3 linked regions of the Homo sapiens genome follow. The protein of the gene in region 1 purifies or fractionates together with the protein of each later gene. This does not show direct contact. Each region holds a gene or a part of one and is shown in the gene's direction. Other genes may lie near its edges.

Region 1 (6,244 bases):
AAAAAAAATCACACTCTGGGGACACTTGGTGGAATTACAGAGCCACCATCATCATTCCAACCACTATTTCATTTTCTGTAGTTTTACCTGTGTGCAATTACTCCCCCTCCATTCTGTTCCACTTCTTACTCCTTAGTACCAAATCCTCTGTTTGGGATTGAGCGCTGCTCCTGGTTAATCATTCCTACTACAAAAAAAAATAACTCCCAGGGCTAGTTAAATTGTAAACCAAGGCTCAGCAGTCTCACAACACATGGACCAGAGGTGACACACAGCCATTTCCTTTGCCATGTGGCCCAGTTGCTGCTGCCATGCCTCCATTTCCACACTGGATGCCTACGGCAGTGAGATTTCACTGCCGGGGTAAGAGTTCAGCCTGGATGATTTTATAGCTCTGTTCCTAGCACTTCTCATCATCCTTCCAGCCCAGAATCAGCGGTCATTCTGCATATTCCCACCAACCCTCTACCCCCAAACACTTCAGTGTACCTCATTTTAAGAGTTGCTGATCCCTGATTCTAGGACGTTTTTACCCATAGTTCTTGTCTTTCCAAAATCTGAAATTCTTTTTTTTGCTCAGAACTGGGTAGCCAAGGGTTATTTTATTTTTATCTTTAAAATAATCAAGGCAGTCGCTAGAGTTTCTCCTTGTGAATAGATCACTCTAGCATTTTAATGAAAAAGAAAAAAATCTTTCTGGGGTATGTTGTATCATAGTAATGGCTCAGTAACCACATATTTTGTCCTTTCCATGTCACTGATTCCTTCATATGAGACTATTTGGCTTGACTACCCTGTATATTGTGTAGAAATCAAAGTTCTTATCTGTACATTTCTGGTCCAATACCTGTCTTATTAGTTGTCCTTCCCCACTAAAGTTTGCAAAACAGAAAATGTTACTATTTCTGGTATTTAATGACAATGAAAGGTTTGGTCATATTTCATAGTGCAGTAGCGATAAGGAGGGTGTCTCAAGTTTGCTTTTGTGTTTCTTCTAGGCTTTGTTCTTGATTTTAGACAGATGAGCCAGTGTTAAGGTGCTACTTCAGAGAATAAATTAGAGAAATCAGATAACACTGTGCCAAGGTATACTTTGTAGATGCTAAGCACCGATTGGCCCTCCAGAGAATGACAATATCCCTTTGATACCTCACTCCTGATCAATCTCATTCATTAACCTCAGCTTCTCAGGAATCCTTGTAGCTTGTATGCTAGAAGTAGCTATGGTATATGGTATCCACTATATGTCCAGTCCTATGGTTTGGCTCAAAGGTTGGCTAATTGCAGCTAGAGCTCTCAACTGCTAGCTCAGCACCTTGACATTTGAAGTTTCTTGTCTTGAGGAGAAGGAAAATGTTCTTTCTGCCATTGCCACTTTAACAGTTGGACATGCTTAAGCAACAAATACAGCCAGTATAGGGAGGACTGTCAGTAGCATCAAATGGCCACATACCTCAATGGCAAAAGACTAGATGGTTTGTGATTTAAAAATTAATGAGTCGAGATGAGACTATTTTGGTATTAAATGAGAAAATTGCCTAACACAAGGGAAGGGTTTACAAAAGAATGCCAATTAGTGTTTCAACAGAGTTAGGATTTTCCAAGTAAGAGTAGCTGGTAGCCATCCAGCCATAAAAGGAACGAGAGTCTATAGATTTGTAAAAGTAAAACTGCTATATTTTGTATCTTCAAATCTTCAATATAAAGAATTTAAAGAACCTGAAACAGTTAATGCATGATTCGTTATATTGGAGGGAAAAAGCAGGGGACTGATAATACAAAATAATGGCAACTTTAAAGATCATTTCTACGTGGATGTTTGGTTAGAAACATATTCCAATGCTCTCCTCTTTCTCTGGCCACAGCATCCTGGCTCAGCCCAGCTGTGGAGTAGAGGTGGTAAGATCCACAGAACAGATATCCTCTGGTAGATAAGCTGACATTGATGATACTTTGAATTTACCAGCTGGTGAAGCAAACGATTAATTTGTGATTGAACTGAAAAGCAGTTGAATTGTTTTGACACCAGAGGCTGAATCTAAACCCTTTACAGGAAGAGCAGAGCATACTATACATTTCTTAGCAGATCTTCAATTCTGTTTGAACATGATGAAGTAACCAGGGTTTAGTGAGATCTAAGGCCGTGAAGTAATTCACAACCAAGATCTTATGAACGCATTCAGATGTGAGGGGGGCAAATATGTTTTCAAAAACTTAGTGTGCAATAGAGTCCATTATAGAAATTAACCACTGCTATATGTTTTAAGTAGTTCAATCACCTGTTGTGGTTCAGTCTTGATTATTGTTTATTTTGTTAGGTGATAAGTAGGAAGATGCACTTGTTATCCCACACTATCTCTTGTTTTGTTTTGTTTTGTTTTTAAATAATGAACAGTGCAATCTTTGAACTTGAGTTTTTAATAATGATAGCAAAGACAATGGTGAGAACTTGAAACAGCCAGCATATTTTATATTGCCAAAGTACTTACTGATGACTGACCACACTGTCTTGTGAGGAACTGGGTCCCCTGCACTGGATCAGAGCCAAATGCAAGCCACCCATCAGTTCAGAGGAAGCAGGAAAACATCTTTTGGGTGGTGCATAGAACATTGAGCTCTTAAAAACCCGGAGAAAAATTAGGAATTTAGAAAGTAAGTGGGAGGTAGAATATTGAGTCCTTTTTTAAAAAAAAGAATTGATGTCTAAATATGTAGTCTGAACTTAAGTGTCCTAAAACCTTGTTTTTTGTTTTTTTGTTTTTTGAGGAGTCGTCTTGCTCTATCACCAGGTGGGAGTGCAGTGGCACAATCTCGGCTCACTGTAACCTCTGCCTCCTGCCTCCCGGGTCCAAGCAATTCCCCTGCCTCAGTCTCCCAAGTAGGTGGGACTACAGGCGCACACCACCATGCCCAGCTAACTTTTGTATTTTTAGTAGAGACGGGGTTTCACCATGTTGGCCAGGATGGTCTCGATCTCTTGACCTCGTGATCCACCCATCTCGGCCTCCCAAAGTGCTGGGATTATAGGTGTGAGCCACCGCACCCAGCCAAACCTTGATTTTTTTAGCCACCTCTGGGATTGCCTGGGTTCCCTTTGGAGAAGAAACTAAAAGTTATGGCCATAGAAAAAGCCCTGGTAAGAAAATATTTGAATGGTGTAAGATGGTGGAAGGAAAGCCATCCCACACCCCTACAACATATGTTCTGGCATTTATAAACTGCTTGATTGTGTGCCTCAAGGGGAGAAAAAGTCAAGCAATGCTTCAAAGGCCAGGCTTTCTAAGCAAATGAGTGGTTCAAAGCAGTGTTTGGCTCAAGGGCAGTCTGGTTTTATGGATAGGGCCGACCCAAGACATCTGCTCATGAAGAAATGTGGCATCTGTTGCCATTTCCTAAACTATAAGGTTTAGATAGATTGTCTTGAATTTTGATAGCAAATTTTTTTAAATTTATATTTCTGCCTCCTCGTACATCCTTATATATGGAAAAAAAAGTAAGAGTTCCTCAGATCAGAGCTCAGTAGCTGTGTCAATTTGAAGTTCAATCAGTGTAGTTGTCCTGGGGTGATCGCTGACTCTGCTCTGTTTCATATTTCAGTTGCTTGCTCCAAGGAGAGAATTTCTGAGAACAATGGGTGTTAGCAACTTTAAGTTACTCCCCAAACGTTTGCTGGCCACATTCTCATTTCTAAACATCTGGATCTGGGTAAAGGTTTGAATAGATGTAGGGAACAAAATTGGTTTTTCCATGGTGTAGTCTAATTTTGCCAAATCACCCAAGAAAGAAAGTATATGACGTGTGGAGTTTGCATTTCTTGGATGGGACCTATCGGGTCACCCAGCCCAGTCTTACAGTCATAAATTCCTACCTCTTAGTTCCTGCCAAAGGGCCTTCAGCCTCTGTGTGCACACTTATTGAATGAATGCTTTGCCTAAAGTTTGGCCTTTTGAAGAAAAACAGCATGTGATAATATAAAAATATGAGAGTTTAAAAAAAAAAAAGATCTCTGCCTCTCTTCTCTCTGCCTCGTCCCACCTTGCTGTCTGTCTCATTGTCTTTCTCTCCCCTCACCATGCGCTGAATTCAGATTTCTCTTTCTTTTATTATAGGCATGTTGTTTTGAATGTGGACTTTGTGGGAGGGAGAGGATTGTTCTGAGAACAGAAACTGGAAGATACGTCTGAGTTGATGGGACCAACAGGGCTTTGCTCCTCTGTGAGGGCCAAAGCCATTGATACTTGTCGGGGGTGATGAGGGCTTTAGCATCTCAAGGCAGACATATGAAGTATTTACTGCTAAACTATATTACTTACTAGTACAAATCTGTTGGAATTCAGGGGCAGTCTAAGATTTGGTGAGTGAAATGCCATCTGGCAAAATCGAGAAGAGAGTGTGGCCTGAGAGGGGAATGTTCAGCCTCACTGTCACATTAAGGGTACCTCAAAATACATGGTCCTTCCAGTGTGTTCCTTTTCCTTCCTCCATTTCACTTTGTCCCCTCTTCTTCCTTTCTCTCCCATTTTCCTGGCTTTTTAGCACTCAGCTTTTTTTTATAAGTATGTATTTACTTTTTATTATATATTTGGTCCTTTGGGACTTTGTGATGATTAAGAATTTATTCCATTCAGGATTTTAAAATGATGTGTTTAATATTTTGTTCTCTTAAACTCTTTTGAAGCTATGCTGCTAACCAGGTATAGGCCAGAAAGGAGGTGGCCCAGTCAGTACCTTGCTCACGTCAGCTAAGGGGGACAGTGATGTCATGTGGGTGACTCTTCTTCATTTGACCAAGGCCAGCCTCCTGTTCTTACCTCTGCCCATTCATTTCTGGCTATGGGAAAACTACCACCTGTTGAGTGAGCCAATGAGGCCAGGAAGATCAGAGGGGCTGGGTTCCGGCCCATGGGCCACTATTTGAATTTCTCTGTAGTAAGCTCTTTGTAGGGCTGGCTCCAACTGCAGTAGCCAAAGAAAACCTGTCTGACTCGACATTTTAATGCCTGAGAGTTGGTGAAAGTTCAGCTGAAGCTAATGTCTAGACATCAGCAGTAACTAGGCATCCAGAAAGTAGCTTCAACCAAAGCTAATAGAGCCCAAGTTTCCGCAGGAAGTTTGGTGCTGAGCTGTCCAGAGCAGTTGTTTATCTGAGTGTTGCTAGCCCTTAGCCATGCTTTCTTAGCTTTATTCTCGCCTGTTCCTAGGCATAGCCTGAACCAGAGCTATGGCTCACTGCTCGCTTTATTCTACTCCCTAGTCATGCGGAACAACATAGTCTAAAAAGGAAGATGTGGACTGGGGAGTTAGGAGACCTGATTTCTATTCCCTATGCTTCTACTAACTAGCCTCGAGATCTTAACCGCTCTGTGCCTCAGTGTTCCCATCTGCAAAATGGGGATAGTGTTAATTGCCCTACCTACCTCACAGGGTTGTTGTGAGGATAAACTGAGACAATGAATTCAAAGCAAGTTGACAAGTAAGTGCTATGCAAATTGTAAGAAATGGAAACAATCATGTTAAAAGCAATGGAATGGACATTGGCAGAAGGGTTAATGGATTGTCCAGCCCTTTCTCTGTGTGGCTTAAACCCAGGTCGCCATTGCTTTATACATTTTCACTTAGCACAGATTTGTAATTATGCATGTAATAAAGCACAGCCTTATCCACCCTGGTGTCTGGTGTGTTTCTAAAGACCCTAAACTTGGTAGCTATTGATTTCTGATCAGAAAACCACAGGGGCAGAGTGGAAGGTTCAGGGGAGGGTAGCACAAAACACAACTGCAAACCCCTACTGGCAGGCCCACTGCTTAAAAAGATTTATTAAATAGTTATTTTCACATTTACAGACTCAGTAATACTCTTTACCATAAGGAGGCAAATAAGAGGCAGCTTGCGTTTTTGGAGATGTTCCAGATACCCGGATACCTCATTCATTGTGGCTACTTAAATGTTCCTGTCTCATACATTGGTGATACTTTCCTGATGATGTGAGAATTGGCTGGGAGCTGTATTTTTCTCTCTCTTTGAGCTCTTAATGATGTAAGGTCGTGGGCTTTGACAGGCCTCTTGCCTACAGCTACTTTGTACAAGGAGGAGGATGGGTAATCAAAACGGTCCTCCCATGAATACTAGGATTCTTAGTACCCTCTTTATGGTGTATTGGGATTAAAATGTCTTCTGTACGAAATCCTCTGAAGTTACCCTGTAGATTAAAGTGGGGTGAGGTATGGGGAGGTTGCTGTATCTG
Region 2 (7,796 bases), on another chromosome or scaffold:
TGCTAGGTACTTAAGAAAGTTGCATGGAGAAAGAGGCAATAGTTAACTTCAATCAAAATAAAGGAAATATAATCATATTATGCTAACTGGATCAATTACATACCTTTATAATAGTATAATGAATAGTACTCTACCTATATAGGGTGATATAGATAAACTGAAGGATGGAAGATGGAGAAATACATGTGTGTATTACCAGTCTTCAGAGTATAAACACATATCTTATTTCCTATAGAAAAAGTAAAATAATGGCCCAAACTGAAAAATTAAGAATTAGTAGTATAAGCATGCTATTTAGAAATACGGAGATAAATACCAGAAGAGGTAGCTGGGTGAATAGAGATTATATCTAGGGAGTAGAAACTGAGAGTGTGGAGGGCTGGGACAGGGTCTGCTGTTTTTCATTATAAACCTAGTGATACTATTTGATTTTTAATGTAATGATAAAAATAAAACAATATGATTAATGTGGTATTTCATTTATTTGAAAATCTTAGGAGGGACTGTATTCATTAAGTTTTTTTGTTTTGTTTGTTTGTTTGTTTTGAGACGGAGTTTCGCTATTGTTGCCCAGGCTGGAGTGCAATGGTGCAATCTCAGCTCACTGCAACCTCCGCCTCCTGGGTTCAAGGATTCTTATGCCTCAGCCTCCTGAGTAGCTGGGATTACAGGCGCCTGCCACCACGCCTGGCTAACTTTTTCTATTTTTAGTAGAGATGGGGTTTCACCATGTTGGTCAGGCTGTTCTTGAACTCCTGACCTCAAGTGATCTGACTGCCTCAGCCTCCCAAAGTGCTGGGATTATAGGCATGAGCCACCATGCGCCCAGGCTGGAGTGCAGTGGCATGATCTCGACTCACTACAACCTCCGCCTCCTGAGTTCAAGCGATTCTGGTGCCTCAGCTTCCGGAGTAGCTGGGATTACAGGTGCCTGCCACCACGCCCTGCTAATTTTTGTATTTTTAGTAGAGATGGGGTTTCACCATGTTGGCCAGGCTGTTCTTGAACTCCTGACCTCAAGTGATCTACCTGCCTTGGCCTCCCAAAGTGCTGGGATTACAGGCGTGAGCCACTGCACCTGACCTGTTTTCATTAAATATTCTAAGGTACTGGGAAATCAACAATATTGATTTAGCACCTCTAAAAGGAACTAAAAATTCTCCCCACTTTGGTACTCACCTGCACTGTGGTGTTTTATTTCAGGGAACCCAGTAACATCAGCAGTGGCACCAGCAGCTCTAGAAACATATTCTGTCCCCATAAATTGTTGTTATCATGGTGAACACCAGCAAGTGATGCACTTAGGTGGCTTTACAGGCAGCAGTAGGCTTTACAGTGGGCTGAAAAATCCCACTAAACAGGGCTGAGTAGGAGGGAGCATCCTAGTGGGTGCACACAATAAAGAAGAGGGCTCATAAGACGTTTCCAGAGTATGCTCAGAAATAACTGGAAGGATGTGTGTGTCCCCAGCCATAACCACTGGAGCCACAATACAAGGAAATCACCAATGTTGTGCATAACTCCATTTGTTCTCCTGGACTGGTGTTGCCTAGGCAAGTGCTGGGTAGATCAGAATGGATGGGGTGGAAGAATTAAGGGGCATCCAGAGAGCTATTTGATCACTGGAGGGGAAAGGGCATGGGGGGATGCAGACAGGTGGCAAAACCTGGGTCCAAGATATATTTGTCCCAGATATATAAATTGTCACTTTTCTCCCTCCCCTTCTGACTTGCACACTTACAAAGAAGGTTCCTCTTCCTTTTCTAACCATCCCCCACCAGGGAATTTTTCAGGCCTTACAAAGAAGGGAGAGGACCCAGGCCAGTTGGGAGGGTACACGTGGACCTACATCACTCTTTTTGAGGAAGTGAGTAGGGAAACCTAGTTATAAGGAAGCAAGGAAAATAGAGGGAGAGTGAGTACTAAGGCCAGCGCCGTCTATAAACAGAACAATTCCCGTGTGACCTGAAGGTCTAGGAAGACCCGAGGTGAGAAATCTTCACTCCCCTGCCTACTATGGTGCGCCGGATCCCGCCATTTGCACATCTTTGGGCATCTCAGCATCCCCTCTCATGGTCAGAAAGAAATCAAATGAGGATTCAAGTAGGTGCCTGATACTTTTCTTTTAGACTAACCAGAGGAGCCTCTCCCATTCCCCTTTTCCCTGGTCCCCACAAACATCATATTGTTTTAATCTGTCTCCAGGTATAACAATAATAAGACAAAGTCCTTACCCTCAGAGAGCTCACAATATTTTGGTGGAGGTTTGGGTATAAAGGCAAATGTGAAAACATAATTTTACTATAATGGGGTAAAGTTAAGAAAGAGATCTATGCAAACATAGAAAGGAGTGCACTTAAGTCAGTGAAGGTTTTCTGGCTTAGAAGAACCCTGACCTAAAGGAAAAGTAAGAGTTACCTAGATAAGAGCAGGGCAGAACAAGAGAAACTGATCCCTCCACTTCTATTGAGTCACCTGAAATTATATTCATTTTTTGGCAGACATATACCTCCCCCAAACATTCGGCTCTAGTTGTGCCAGTTCTTCCTTGTCAGCCCTCTTACCTTGGCCTGAGGCTTCATTGTCTCCAGTCAGGCGACTATCTCATAGTCACACTCCACTCACGGCAGCCACATTCTGTATTCCAGAACAGCACTTCCTGACAGCACTATAACATTTTCTAGCAGCCACATTTAAGAGGTCAAAAAACAAGTGAAATATTTTACTAATATATTTTATTTAACCCAACATATCTAAAATATTTAAACCATATTTTTAAATTACTGAAATATTTTACATTTTAAAAATATTGTCTTTGAAATTAAGTGTATATTTTATACAGCACATTTCAATTCAGTCTAGCCACATTTCAAATGCTCAATTGCCACATGTAGCTAGATAGTGGTTATACTATGGAGCTCTAAAATTCCGCCCAGACTGAGTGTGCTTGGTGTTTCTCCATTAAACAGATGAGGCCCATCAGTCTGAGGCACAACTATGTATTTTCTCTAAGTCTCTGTACCCCCAAGGCCTTGAAAACAATTCGGAAGGAAGAGAAGGCCTATGAGGTTTCAGCTACAGCAGGCACTCCCTTTAGATGCCAAGCCTAGAAAACCCTAAACTGATGCCTAACTTGCAGCTGAATCACCTTTCAGCAATCAGATTCAGTGCCTCACCAACACATTTGATCCAGGGAGTCTCCAGTTTGTCCTTTGTCCAGTAGAAGACCCACTACAAAGCCTTGATAATTCATCAAAGTGACAGCACCTTCACTGGGCAGTCTGGTGAGAGGACATCTAGCCCTGCCACCCTGGTTCCTGTTGGGAACAGTATCAGATACGTTGTGTTAGATTCACATGAATCTAAGAATCACATGGGCGAAAAATATTGAGAGCATTCTGTTAAAACATTTCCACAAATTGGGAAAAGACCATCTTTAAAAATCTGTTGGGGCCGGGCGCGGTGGCTCACGCCTATAATCCCAGCAATTTGGGAGGCCGAGGCGGGCGGATCACAAGGTCAGGAGATCGAGACCATCCTGGCTAACACAGTGAGACCCTGTCTGTACTAAAAATACAAAAAAAAAAAAAGAAAAAGAAAAAGAAAAAAAAAATTAGCCGGGCGGCGTGGTGGCGGGCGCCTGTAGTCCCACCTACTAGGGAGGCTGAGGCAGGAGAATGGCGTCAACCCGGGAGGCGGAGGTTGCAGTGAGCCGAGATCGCGCCACTGCACTCCAGCCCGGGGGACAGAACGAGACTCCGTCTCAAAAAAAACAAAAAAATCTGTTTACAGAGGTAAAAACACGGGTATTACATGGAGCATAATTTGAAATCCATTCCCTCATATTCAGCCAAGAACTACAGGCCCAGAGAAGGGAAGTGATTTGCCAAAGGTCATTCAACAAATCCCTAGGGGCTGTGATGATCCGTGTCCTTGCCATTACCTCCCTTGTCTCCACTAACAAAAATATTTCAATGGGAGAATGTGCCGATCTAAGGCACTCCTAAAGTACTTGCTGAGAATGACAGCCCTGGGGAGACAGGTCGGCAGCCCTGAACAGGCACTGCCTTACCCGGGCGTAGTGCCCCAATTCGCCACCTCTTGGAGTCCTAGGCGGAGGATACTACTGGGGCAGTTGTTTCGCCAATTCCACATCTCCCGGAGCCTGGCCTGGCCCAGCCCAGCCCCGTCGCTGTGACCCACTTCCTAGCTGCAGGCTGGACCAAGGGGAGGCACATGGGGAGCTCCACAGGGAGGCCACGCCCACGAGGGCAGCTCACAGAATTAGAAAGCCGACGGGGTGCTGTGGTCAGGAGGCGCGTGGGCGGCAGGTTAGTACTTAAGGTGCAGAGACCACCCCCAACCCTTTGACTGGCGGTGGGCATCCCGGAAAGGCATGGCTCGGCCAATTCCAGCCCCGTTTCCACGCTCAGCACCCGCCCTGCCTGTGCGCGAACGGCTCCGGCCCGCACGGGTCGCCAGAGGCGACTGTGTGACACTCGGAGTTTGCTGGGGTCTCCGTGGGCGGGAGGACTTTCCAGCGCAATGGCGACTCCCTAAGCCCCGCAGCTTCTGCGCCCGGGAAAGATATCCAAGAGATGCAAAGCTCTACTGGGCCCAGGCTGCCACCCCAGAGGCCCCCTTCCGTCCCGGGGCCGGGGCTAGGCCAAGGCGGGCACCAGGACTGCCCAGCCTCCCGGCCCTTCGCACTGGTAACCGGTTCCGGGGCGGATGCTTTTTGCATCTGACCCGGCGCGCCCGGTGACGCCTTCGCGTCCAGACGGAAGTGCGGGCGGAGGATCCCCAGCCGGGTCCCAAGCCTGTGCCTGAGCCTGAGCCTGAGCCTGAGCCCGAGCCGGGAGCCGGTCGCGGGGGCTCCGGGCTGTGGGACCGCTGGGCCCCCAGCGATGGCGACCCTGTGGGGAGGCCTTCTTCGGCTTGGCTCCTTGCTCAGCCTGTCGTGCCTGGCGCTTTCCGTGCTGCTGCTGGCGCAGCTGTCAGACGCCGCCAAGGTGAGTCCCGCCCAGCCTCGCTCCTGACGGAAGCTCCTCCCCTACCACCGGCCTTGCGGAAACTGGGTCTGCCAACCTGCTCCTTGGCCCATTCCTGACAGCCATACGCCTGGCCTCACAGCTCCGGCAGACCCCCGCCGCCACCAGCCCCGCCCCTCCCGACTGCCCGGCGGCACTCTCGCCCTCAGCCCCGACAGCCTGGCAGGCAGCGCCCCACGGTCGTCCCCAGCCCCGACAGTGCCCACAGTCCGGACAGCAGCCCCCCACCGCCTTAACATTTCCCTTCCCAGCCCCGGCTGCACGCATCTTACACTTGACAACCTTTTCACCTCCGAGAGCCTTTAACTTTCCACCCTAAGCTCTTGACAGCCCACCTGCGCCCTCCGCCAGCCTCACAGGCCCCGCATGCCCCAAGCCAGAATGATAGGAAGCCCCCATCTGACAGAGCCTTCCCTGTCAAGGGCCGACTCAGCTCAGCTCACCCCTGAACACTTCCCTTCCTGTGGTGGGAACTTGCCCCTCCTGGCCTACTTCCCTCCCAATAGGGCCTACGGAGCATCTCTCACCTGCTTCATATTCTCACCTAACTCCCTCCACGAGTCCCTTGGTGCCTTTCTTGCTTTCTCTCTTCCTGATAATTTAGTGGGTAAGGGAAGAACCAAACTGCAAGAGAGGTGAGGTTGTGGCCTCCCTGGTTCGATTTCTTGACCTTCTAGTTCCCTCATACTGTTCTCTGGTGCCCCAGCTCTCCAGACCTGCCCTAGCTCCATGCATACCTGTGCTTCCTCTTTGATGAGCTAGCTCATCATTGGGGGAGAACAGAAGGGATTCACATTAGTATGATGGGAAAACAGAATGACATTGCGTTTTTAAAAATAAGAGCTTTAATTTATAATATCTTTAAATGTAGGAGTGGGGAAAGGTTACAGGCAGGCAAATGTTTTTGATTCAGAGATTCTTTTTGAAACCATCTCTACCTCCTACCAGAAACAGGGACAGCAGCACGTCTCCTGACTTTGAAAACATTGCTGGCACCCTCTGCATATCTTGCCTCATAACTTTATGTATTGTGATCATGTATTTATTTTTCAGTCTCCTTTACTAGGGTGTGTCCTGGTTATGGGCAGAAACCATGTCTTATGCTTATCTGAATCCACCTTATTGAGCACAAGATCTAACACAGAGCAAATGCTCACTAAGTGGTTGCTGAATACGTTTGTGAATTGTCAATAGCTCTGCCAGACATATCACTGTATATAGGAGGAGTGGGCAAGGTCCTCTGGGGAATGATAAGCCACTTCCTTCTCAAACAGATTCCCCTTTGCTGAGGAAGCATCTCTTCTTTTCTCTATCCAGATACTTAGTCACCTGTTCCTCCACCTCTTGAAACTTGTTTTGTTGGTAGTTGTTCTGTCTGTCAACCAGGAATTAGAAGCAAAGTTTCCTGGGAAGAGTATACTAAACTGATCTCAGAGTCAGGCTACTTCCTGTGTGTACTTCCTTTCTAGTTGTAGGTGGGTGCCTCTAACATTTCATCCCTTCTACGGGACTCTGGCCCAACCCGTTTTATCAATGTCAGTGCCTTCTACCAGAGGGTGAAAGGATGATAGGTAGAATTGTGACCTTTTTTGTGAATAATTTTTAGTTTCTTTCCCATCCTTTAGTAATGAATATTCTTATTTACAGGCACAACTATCTGCTTACCATGTGTCTTTCTAGTGGCAGATAGATGGTAATAACATTAACATAATTTGATTGTCATGTGACCCATAAATATGGTTAATAAGTCTTAGATCATGTATTAGGTATTATTTCAAAATAACTACATGTAATATATAATGATTCATTGGCATTACCATAAAGGACTGTGGCTTTTAAAAACTGTGTCTGTTAAAGTTTTAAATGAATGATTTTAGAATACTTGGTATTCTAAAGAGGATGCTTGGCAAAATGTATATGGTACAGTTTTTAAAAATATTGATGATAAACTGTCAACGCACTATACTGTTTCCATTTTGGTTACAGAATTTCGAGGATGTCAGATGTAAATGTATCTGCCCTCCCTATAAAGAAAATTCTGGGCATATTTATAATAAGAACATATCTCAGAAAGATTGGTAAGTATCTGGATTACTGAATTACCTGTCACATTTGTTTCTGTGGTTGTCAGTGTTATCCCAGAATGTTCATCAAATGCATAGTTTTCTTTTTAAGTATTTCATTTGAAGCAAAAATGTGAAATTCTACTTCCATTTGAAAAAGTGAGAGTGAGGCCCTACGTGCATGATGCCTGCAGGCCTAAAGGTATACAGCCAAAACACTAAGACCCATGTAGGCAGAGTTTCATGGGAGCATATGACTGGGTTTGTGGCACCTAAACTACCCATAGCTATCTTGCTGTACTCCCTCAAGTTTTGGTGAGGGACCTTTCTCCCTCTTGCTTTTCAGTGGAAGGTTAGCAAGCCTCGTTTGTCTGGGTTATAATTTTTACAACTTGTAGGTTTTGATGATGTATTGCCAAGTATGGGAAGCTATGTTTAAAAGTGTCAGAAGGCTCAAGAAGAAGTGGAAATGAGCTATGTAGTCAGAGTTTCCCATTTGGTGTAAATGAAGAAGTTACAGTTGTGCCAAGATATTGACCTGTTCAGTCCTTGGGCAGTCAGGCAGGCCTGTGATGACTGGGGGATCCTGACTGACTAGCCACCAGCAGCCTTCTCTGCTTATCCCAGCAGACCTGACAAATAGCTTTTTCTACGTGTGCCATGAAGCAGTTGGGATGCAGTT
Region 3 (7,109 bases), on another chromosome or scaffold:
CACCTTCTTACCAGCCCTAGCCACTCTGCTCAGGGGCATGCCATGAGTGGGCCAGCGCGCCCCATCCGTCTTGCTCTCCACAGGAGCAATGAGCCCACCAGCCCAGGTTTACTTTTCCTGGCCCCAGCTTTCCAGCCTCTCCACAGCCTGTTCTTCCTTGCTCTTAGTTTCTGATTGCTTTCCACCCTTCATCATGAACTCTTCTACAGCCAGGGAGGCCCTTGTGTTCCCATCTCTACCCCGGGAGCCTCTCGGCATCAGGCTCCAGACTTCTTCCTCTGTCATCTGCCTGCTGTCGTGATGCCTGCTGTGCAGACTCCCTCAAGTTAGGACAGAGTGCTTCCTCTGTGGAGTAGGGCCCTCCCTTTCCTTTCTGGGCATGCTTTCCCTCTGAGCCCACGTTGCCTCCAAGTCCTTTCTTAGTGCACCACTTGAGGAGTCACTGCCAGCCGGACACAGATGGCCCAAGACTAGCAACGGATTTCTAGCCCTGGCCTCAGATAATGGTTCATAGGCACGCCGGTCTCTTCCTCAGGTCATCATTGTCATCTACCTGTCCGTGGTGGGTGCCCTGTTGCTCTACATGGCCTTCCTGATGCTGGTGGACCCTCTGATCCGAAAGCCGGATGCATATACTGAGCAACTGCACAATGAGGAGGAGAATGAGGTAAGAGGGCTTTGAGTGCCCAGGCCCTGGGTCCCTGCATGTGCGTCCCCAGGGCAAAACCCAGAGGAGCGTCACCTAGGTCCAGGTCCCACCTCCCCAAAATGCTTCAAGTTGCTCTTCTGGTCAGTGTCGTACACATCACCCAGACTCAGCAGGGACCTGCTCTTTGCCCTTCCAGATGAAGCAGGACACCGGGCATCAAGCAGTCTCCATGTACAAGCCGGGGGAGCCATGTCATCCTGCTGTACTGTGCTTCCAGGCAGAGGGGGCGCAGCCAGCCAGAGCCAGTCACACATAGATACACATGATATCCCCCGTGTGCTCAGACATTGGTGACAAGCTGCTGGTGGACTGGACGGCAGCAGGTTAATTTGTTTGTCCAGTGATTCCACAAACATCTGTTGAACACTTGCTCAATGCAAACCAGAGCTCCAGGGTCTGGGGAGAAATGTAGGATTTCAAGAGCGGAAGAGGAATGAGACAGTGGTGCCGGGCAGGGGACATTGCCAAGTATGTGTGAGGAATTTTGAGCGTTGCAAGGATAGGGTAGAGATGTTTGAATAGTGGCAAAGAGAGCTGGCCAGTAGATTTAGGTCACATTATTAAAAGTCCCAAATGTCAAGCTAAGGGGGTTTGGCTTTATCTGACAAGGAAAGTGGGGAACCACTGACCCCAGACAGCCTGCAAGGCCTCCAGGAGTTCATGCAATGGTGGGGAGCTGGCAGGGCTTGGACCAGGCCCAGTGCAGTTAACAAGCGCTGTCACCGTCTTCCCATTCATCCTCATACTAAAAAGTTGTGGACACCATGGCGAGGAAACCCGGGGGGACAGGAGGGCTCAGGTGAAGGGCTCTTCGTGGGAGTGAGACGTGGTGTACCTCCATGCTGAGCAGAGTTGTGATGAGCCCTGCACTCCCCAGGTGGTCTAGGGGAATCTTGCCTGAGTGAGGACTGCACAGCCCCGTGTGCCTCGGGCTCCCCCTTTATGCGCTCATGTACCAGCTAGCTGGGTGCATGAGACAGCAGAGCGGGCTGCTTAGAGGCGTGGAGCCAAGGCAGGCGGGGTTGGCTGCTGCTTCCACTCTGAGCTCTGTCCCCAGGGCCTTGCTGCTGGAAGATACTCCTGTTTATTGACTGATGGAGGGATGCCCTGAGTGAACTCATGCGTATGCATAAGGAATATCTAGTCGGGAAGCGCCTCAGCTAGGCCTCAGAGAATTAGTTGAAGAAACTGAGAGTCATTTAGCTTAAAGGAAAAGAAAAACAACTAAAGGAGACGCATGATAGCTGCCTTCAGAAGTTTGTAGAAGACAGCTTGGCTTCATCCAGGGACAGAGAGATTTAACACAATATGAGGAGGAGGCTGGGAGTCTTCCTGTAGACAGCGTGGTCTAACTATGGGGTAGGTGGGCTGGGCTCCCTTGCAAGACCATGAGCCAGTTCCTCACCAAAAAGAGGACCCAGGGGCTCAAGTCTAAGTGTGAAGCTGCCTGGGTGATGTGGGTCTGGGCCAGCATGAACAGCGAAGAGAAGGGCAGATCAGGGAGGGAGCCTGGCTGCTCTCGAGGGCTGTGTTGCCCCACCCTGCGCACATGCCTGGACTGCTCCCAGTTTGCCCCCAGCCTCCTGCTGACATGAGTTTGGCCGAAGGTGGAGCAGAGGGGATGAGCCTCGCCCCATTGGAGCTAGGGCCTGGGAGGTGGTGGCACTGGCAGTTGGGTGGTCTGTGTTCAAGAGGAAACCTCGTGTGCCTACCTGGTTATTAATGTAGAGTAATAGCAGCTCTGATAGGGGAGGAGCATCGCTAATAAACACTCAGCGATTAGGGGTAATGTGGTAATTGCAGTCCTGGCTGGGGTAGTAATTGAGAGATGCAGCCCAATGATTTCCGTGGAATGCATGGCTCTGGGGCATGGCCTTGTTATGTCTCCTGCCATCCTAGCCAGGGAGCCAGAGGGAGGGCAGCTTGGGGAGAGCAGCTTGCCGTCCCTGGGTATGAACCCAGGTCTCTCTTACCCCCAGGAGACCTGGAGTGCTCCTCATTTGAAGCCTGTTTGTATGAGGGGGCCTTGGGAGGAAGAAGGGCTAGATTTGGTAACTGTGGCAGGACTGCCTGGGAGGACAGTAGGCTGTGATAGGCTGCAGCACATAGAAGCTGGCGAGCCATGCTCCCTCCTGTAGGGGAAGTTGCGGCCCTGGGATGGACAGGATGACACGCCCTCACCTCTCACCTGAGGTTCTAAAAGCTCATAAAAAGTTGTGTTTAATCTCTTTGATACCCTGACCTAGGGTGCAGCCAACTCTCGCTGGTTGTGGCCTGGGGCAGGTAGATCTCATTGGGTGCCCTTGGCTGGGTAAGGAAGTGCCCCCAGTCCCGTTCTTTGGCATCATCTCTCTATCCCCTCACCTCCTGTGATTCTGTGTGGTCTCCAGGTCACAGATGTCTGTGGTTCAGCAACTCTGCTTTTCTCAGTGTATTCAGAAAACCTGCAGGTGGCACAGTGTTGAGATTTGCACAGACCTTATGTCTGCCCTCGGGGGTTTAAGCCCCAAGACGGCCAAAAGCAGGTAAAGCAGCAGGAAACGTAAAGGCTGGCAGTAAGATCTGGCTTCGTAAGACGGGTGGTCAGCTGAAAAGTCAGGTGCCTTGGGAGGCCCCTCTTTACTAGACAAGGGGTCGGAAAGTTACCCTTCTCGTTGTGTTAGTCTGGGAAGGAAGGCTTCCTGGCAGAGGGGGATTTTCAGTGCCCACTCAGGGTGGTTGGGAGAGTGACCGCTGAACTGCAGGGAGGATGAACAGGGCATTGGGGCTGGACAGAACCCAAGGAGCTTGTCTTTACAGAGACTGGGGGCCCTAGTCCTGGACGACGAGGGATAATCTACTGCCCCTCTCAGTGCACAGAGGAAAGGGATGTGGGGAAACATGGGGCTGGGGGGCAGGCATTCAGCTGAGCGGCAGCAGCACCTAGGCTGTAGCCATGTCTCTGGGTTTCACCCCAAGAGGAACAAAGTCAGGACATGGCCTCTTGGGTTCCTTGAAAGTTCGCCTAGGCCTGTACAACTCGATGACTTTAGAAGGAAAATTCTGTCTAGGCTCCAGGAGCTTTCAGGCCCTACGCCCCAGAAGTCTGGGACCCAGTTAGGGGTGAGATCTGGAGGTCAGGGCATTTTTTCAGGGTTAGGGACCCCTTGGTTCCTTCTCCCCAATTCCTGTGACCAGGAGCTCTCCTGCCCAGGGGGTAAAGAACTGGAAGAGGAAGAGGAGGCCTCCCCCTCAGCCTCAGCCCCGTTCATGGAGGGAGATGAAAGCTTGTCATGTTCCCTTTGAAAGCGCTGGCAGAGCCTCAGTAGGCCCTGATTGCTGGGCGCTGCCTCCCCTGGGATTCCAGCAGCATTAGGCATAATCCCTGGGCTCAGACGTCCTTTGAAAGGAGGAAGCAAGCATGTTTGCTGGGGCAGAAACGGCAAACAGAGCTGTTTTAGATGTGCAGGTTGGGCCCTCTTTGAAGAGAGACACATGGTTTCTCTGAGGCTGGGGATGTCGCTGCTCACAGCATGGGCCCAAGCTCTGGAGAGGTCTTCAAAGTGCTCACCCTGCTGGGGCAGTGGGTAGAGTTCTGGGCCCCCTTTGGGAGAGAGTATACAGGGAAATCAAGGAAAGGTGATGATGATGATGGGAACTGGAACATGCAGGCACCGGGGAGAAGACTCGGGCCACTGAGGAGCAGTCTCCCCTCCTGTCTGCACATGGGTGGCAGCTGTGTTCTGAGGACCCCAGCCCTGGGAAGCTGACAGTGAAACACGGAACAGACACACTGATGAGGGCAATCCAGTCGGCCTCCTCCCCTGAGGGCAGAATAGAAAGATGTGCGGTTCAACAGACGCTTCTAGAGCCTCCAGTGGGGCAGCACAGCATTGTGGTTAATCACAGTCCTGGGAGGGGCCGAGCCCTGCCATTTACTATCCTTGGTGCTAACCTCCTGGTTTAGTTTTCTAAGTCTGGAATACACATAATCATGTTTACCTCAGCATAACTGTTGCGATCGTGTGTATGGAAGCTTTACAAGTGTTTGCTCGTCCTTAAGAATGCGCTATTTCAATCAGGTGTTAATACTTAAGTAGCATCATGATTGCTGGAGGGAAGCCTGAGGGGCAGCGTGCACAAGGGCCTGAGTGAGGATCACCGCAGGTAGACAGAGGATGCATGGACCAGTGTGGCCAGAGGCTGGGCTGGGGGGTAAGGGGGGAGGTGAGGCTGGGAGTGCCCTTGAATGTCAGGCCCAGCAGGGTTTTATTTGTGAGCAGGTGGGTCCCAGCTGGGGTTTTTGGGCAGGGAAACAGCATGAGTTGGTGTGTCATAGGAAGGTGGCCCTAGCCGCAGCGTGCAGGGGTCAGGGAGAGCCTCGCAGCAGAGGTGCAGTGGGACTCAGCAACAGCAGCAAGGACTTGGGTCAAACATGGAAAACTCAGAGAGGCTGTATAGTCCTCTTGCTGAAGGGCTTTGCACTAGGACCATGCTTTGCTGAGTGGCTGGTAAGTGATGAGACCACCTGGTCATGCTCCTGTGCCTGGGATTGGGGAGGAGGGAGGAGGAGCAGCCAGAGAGAGGAGAGCCGCCTGAGGTGGGGTTCTCACTCTCCCTGTCTCCTTGTCATCAGGCTTTGGCCAAGTCCAGTGCCAGCTCAGAACCAGTGCTTCTGGGCAGACTGAAGAGGGTTTCATCTGGGACGGCCTGAAGGGCTCAGGGCTAGTTTGATCAGCTGGGGCTTATCCACACAGTTACTTGGGTCCTTCCAGTGTGGAGAAGAGGGCCTCGCTTGATGTCCTGAGCATTGGTTCCTTTAGAAGTGCTCTGTTCTTGCTCTAGCTGTGGGGAAATATACCAGCCTGTCTCTTTGGTTGTCCATGCTGGCTCCCTCTTAGGAGAAACCAGCCAAAGAAGGATCCAGCTGGGTCCTAGGATAAGAGATATACGTACATGGGTTCAAATTCCGACTTGGCCACTAAACAGCCATGCAGCCTTGGGCAGCAAGATGATTCATCTTTCAGAGCCTCAGTTTCTGCAGCTACAATAGGGGATGGTTTTACCCATTTGCCAGTGTTGTAAGCCTGGGAATAATCTGTGTAAAGTGCCTAGCAGAGCGCCTGGCACATAGTGGCACTTGTCATAGTCACACTGGTCTGGTCCCCCTGGGGACCTCCTGGGAATCCATCCATGTCCAAGCTCTTTTTCTGATTGGGAGGGGCTCCACCCGCCTCCCCTCCTAACTGCCCTTCTGCTCCCGAGTTAACCGGAGGCCCAGCCTCAGAGGGAGAGGGGAGGAACTGGTGGCATTTCTCCCACTTCCACCCACCATACTTGCTGCAGAGCAAGCAAGGATGAGGCCCCACTCTGGGCTGTCTCTGAAACAGATGTGGAGTCTTTAATACCTTTTAATCAGACTATTAGCGATGGAAACTCAGCCTCTCAGTGGCAGCTTTCCCCCACTTAGGAGCTGTTTGTTAAGACTTTACATGAAGGGAAAACAAATGATACTGTGGTAATGTGGTGAATTTCAGCATGTTCCCTTAATGCTGTGCTCTGGGCTCTCCCTGGCTTCCCCTTCTCAAGACGCTCCCCTGAGATACAGAGCAGTGGAAGGAGGGCAGGGCTAAAGCTGCCCCACCCTTCCAAGCGTAGCACCCCACCCCACACACACACTGGAGCCCTGTCATGAGAAAGATGGTCCCAGAAAGGATGAGATTGGGAATGGAAAGAAGAAGAGAAGGCAATCCAGCCCCCAGAGCCAAGTCCCGGTGGGCCAATAGCTTCCCAGATGGGTCTTTAGTGCCCACCTCATGTAGACGGCCACACTGAGGCAGGACTGGGTGGAGGCTTGGTCTTAGCACTGTGGCCAGCTCAGTCAGCACAGTGAACAGGGAAGGCATGGAACTGGAAGGAGGGGCAGCAGCCATGGCAGTTTTCACAGGCTTTCTCCTGGCAGCCAGCCGCCAGCCTTACTGCCTAGTGGCTTCCAGAGCTAGGCTCTGATATTAGTCATCGCTCCTAGGGAAGAAAGAAACCAAACATTTCTTGAGCCCTAGCTCTGTGACAGCCAGGATAGTAAGTGCTTTATATGTGTGTTATTTAACTTTGCCATACCCATCTACTAATCTTAAACCAGTGTATTTCAAGCAAGCCATTAGGTCATGAAATGAATTCTGTGAGTCATGACCAGGATTTTTAAAAAAATGGAATGGAACAGAGCAAAGAATATCAGAATGCATTACACTAAGTATTGTTTTATGAAACTTCTTTTCACTCTGTGTGTGTGTGTGTGTGTGTGTGTGTGTGTGTGTGTGTGTGTGTTAGATAATTTGGTAACTATAATTCCTAATGACCGTATAGCAGAAAAAAGTCTCAATGACTACATTTACTACATTAAATTGAAGCTTGGAGAAAT

What was found.
Region 2: the proteins of CLCN5 (region 1) and TMEM9B purify together in Homo sapiens (co-immunoprecipitation; 4 studies listed by BioGRID and IntAct, with this or other methods). This does not show direct contact.
Region 3: the proteins of CLCN5 (region 1) and TMEM9 purify together in Homo sapiens (co-immunoprecipitation; 3 studies listed by BioGRID and IntAct, with this or other methods). This does not show direct contact.

The regions. Positions count from the first base shown.
Region 1 is NC_000023.11:50,093,568-50,099,811, forward strand, and holds the end of CLCN5 (H(+)/Cl(-) exchange transporter 5), read left to right. Parts: 3' UTR 1-5,663; downstream 5,664-6,244. UniProt on the Homo sapiens protein: Proton-coupled chloride transporter. Functions as antiport system and exchanges chloride ions against protons. Important for normal acidification of the endosome lumen. May play an important role in renal tubular function.
Region 2 is NC_000011.10:8,961,425-8,969,220, reverse strand, and holds the start of TMEM9B (transmembrane protein 9B isoform a precursor), read left to right. Parts: upstream 1-4,778; 5' UTR 4,779-4,907; coding exon 4,908-5,012; intron 5,013-7,037; coding exon 7,038-7,129; intron 7,130-7,796. UniProt on the Homo sapiens protein: Enhances production of pro-inflammatory cytokines induced by TNF, IL1B, and TLR ligands. Has a role in TNF activation of both the NF-kappaB and MAPK pathways.
Region 3 is NC_000001.11:201,137,378-201,144,486, reverse strand, and holds part of TMEM9 (proton-transporting V-type ATPase complex assembly regulator TMEM9 isoform a precursor), read left to right. Parts: intron 1-535; coding exon 536-667; intron 668-7,109. UniProt on the Homo sapiens protein: Transmembrane protein that binds to and facilitates the assembly of lysosomal proton-transporting V-type ATPase (v-ATPase), resulting in enhanced lysosomal acidification and trafficking.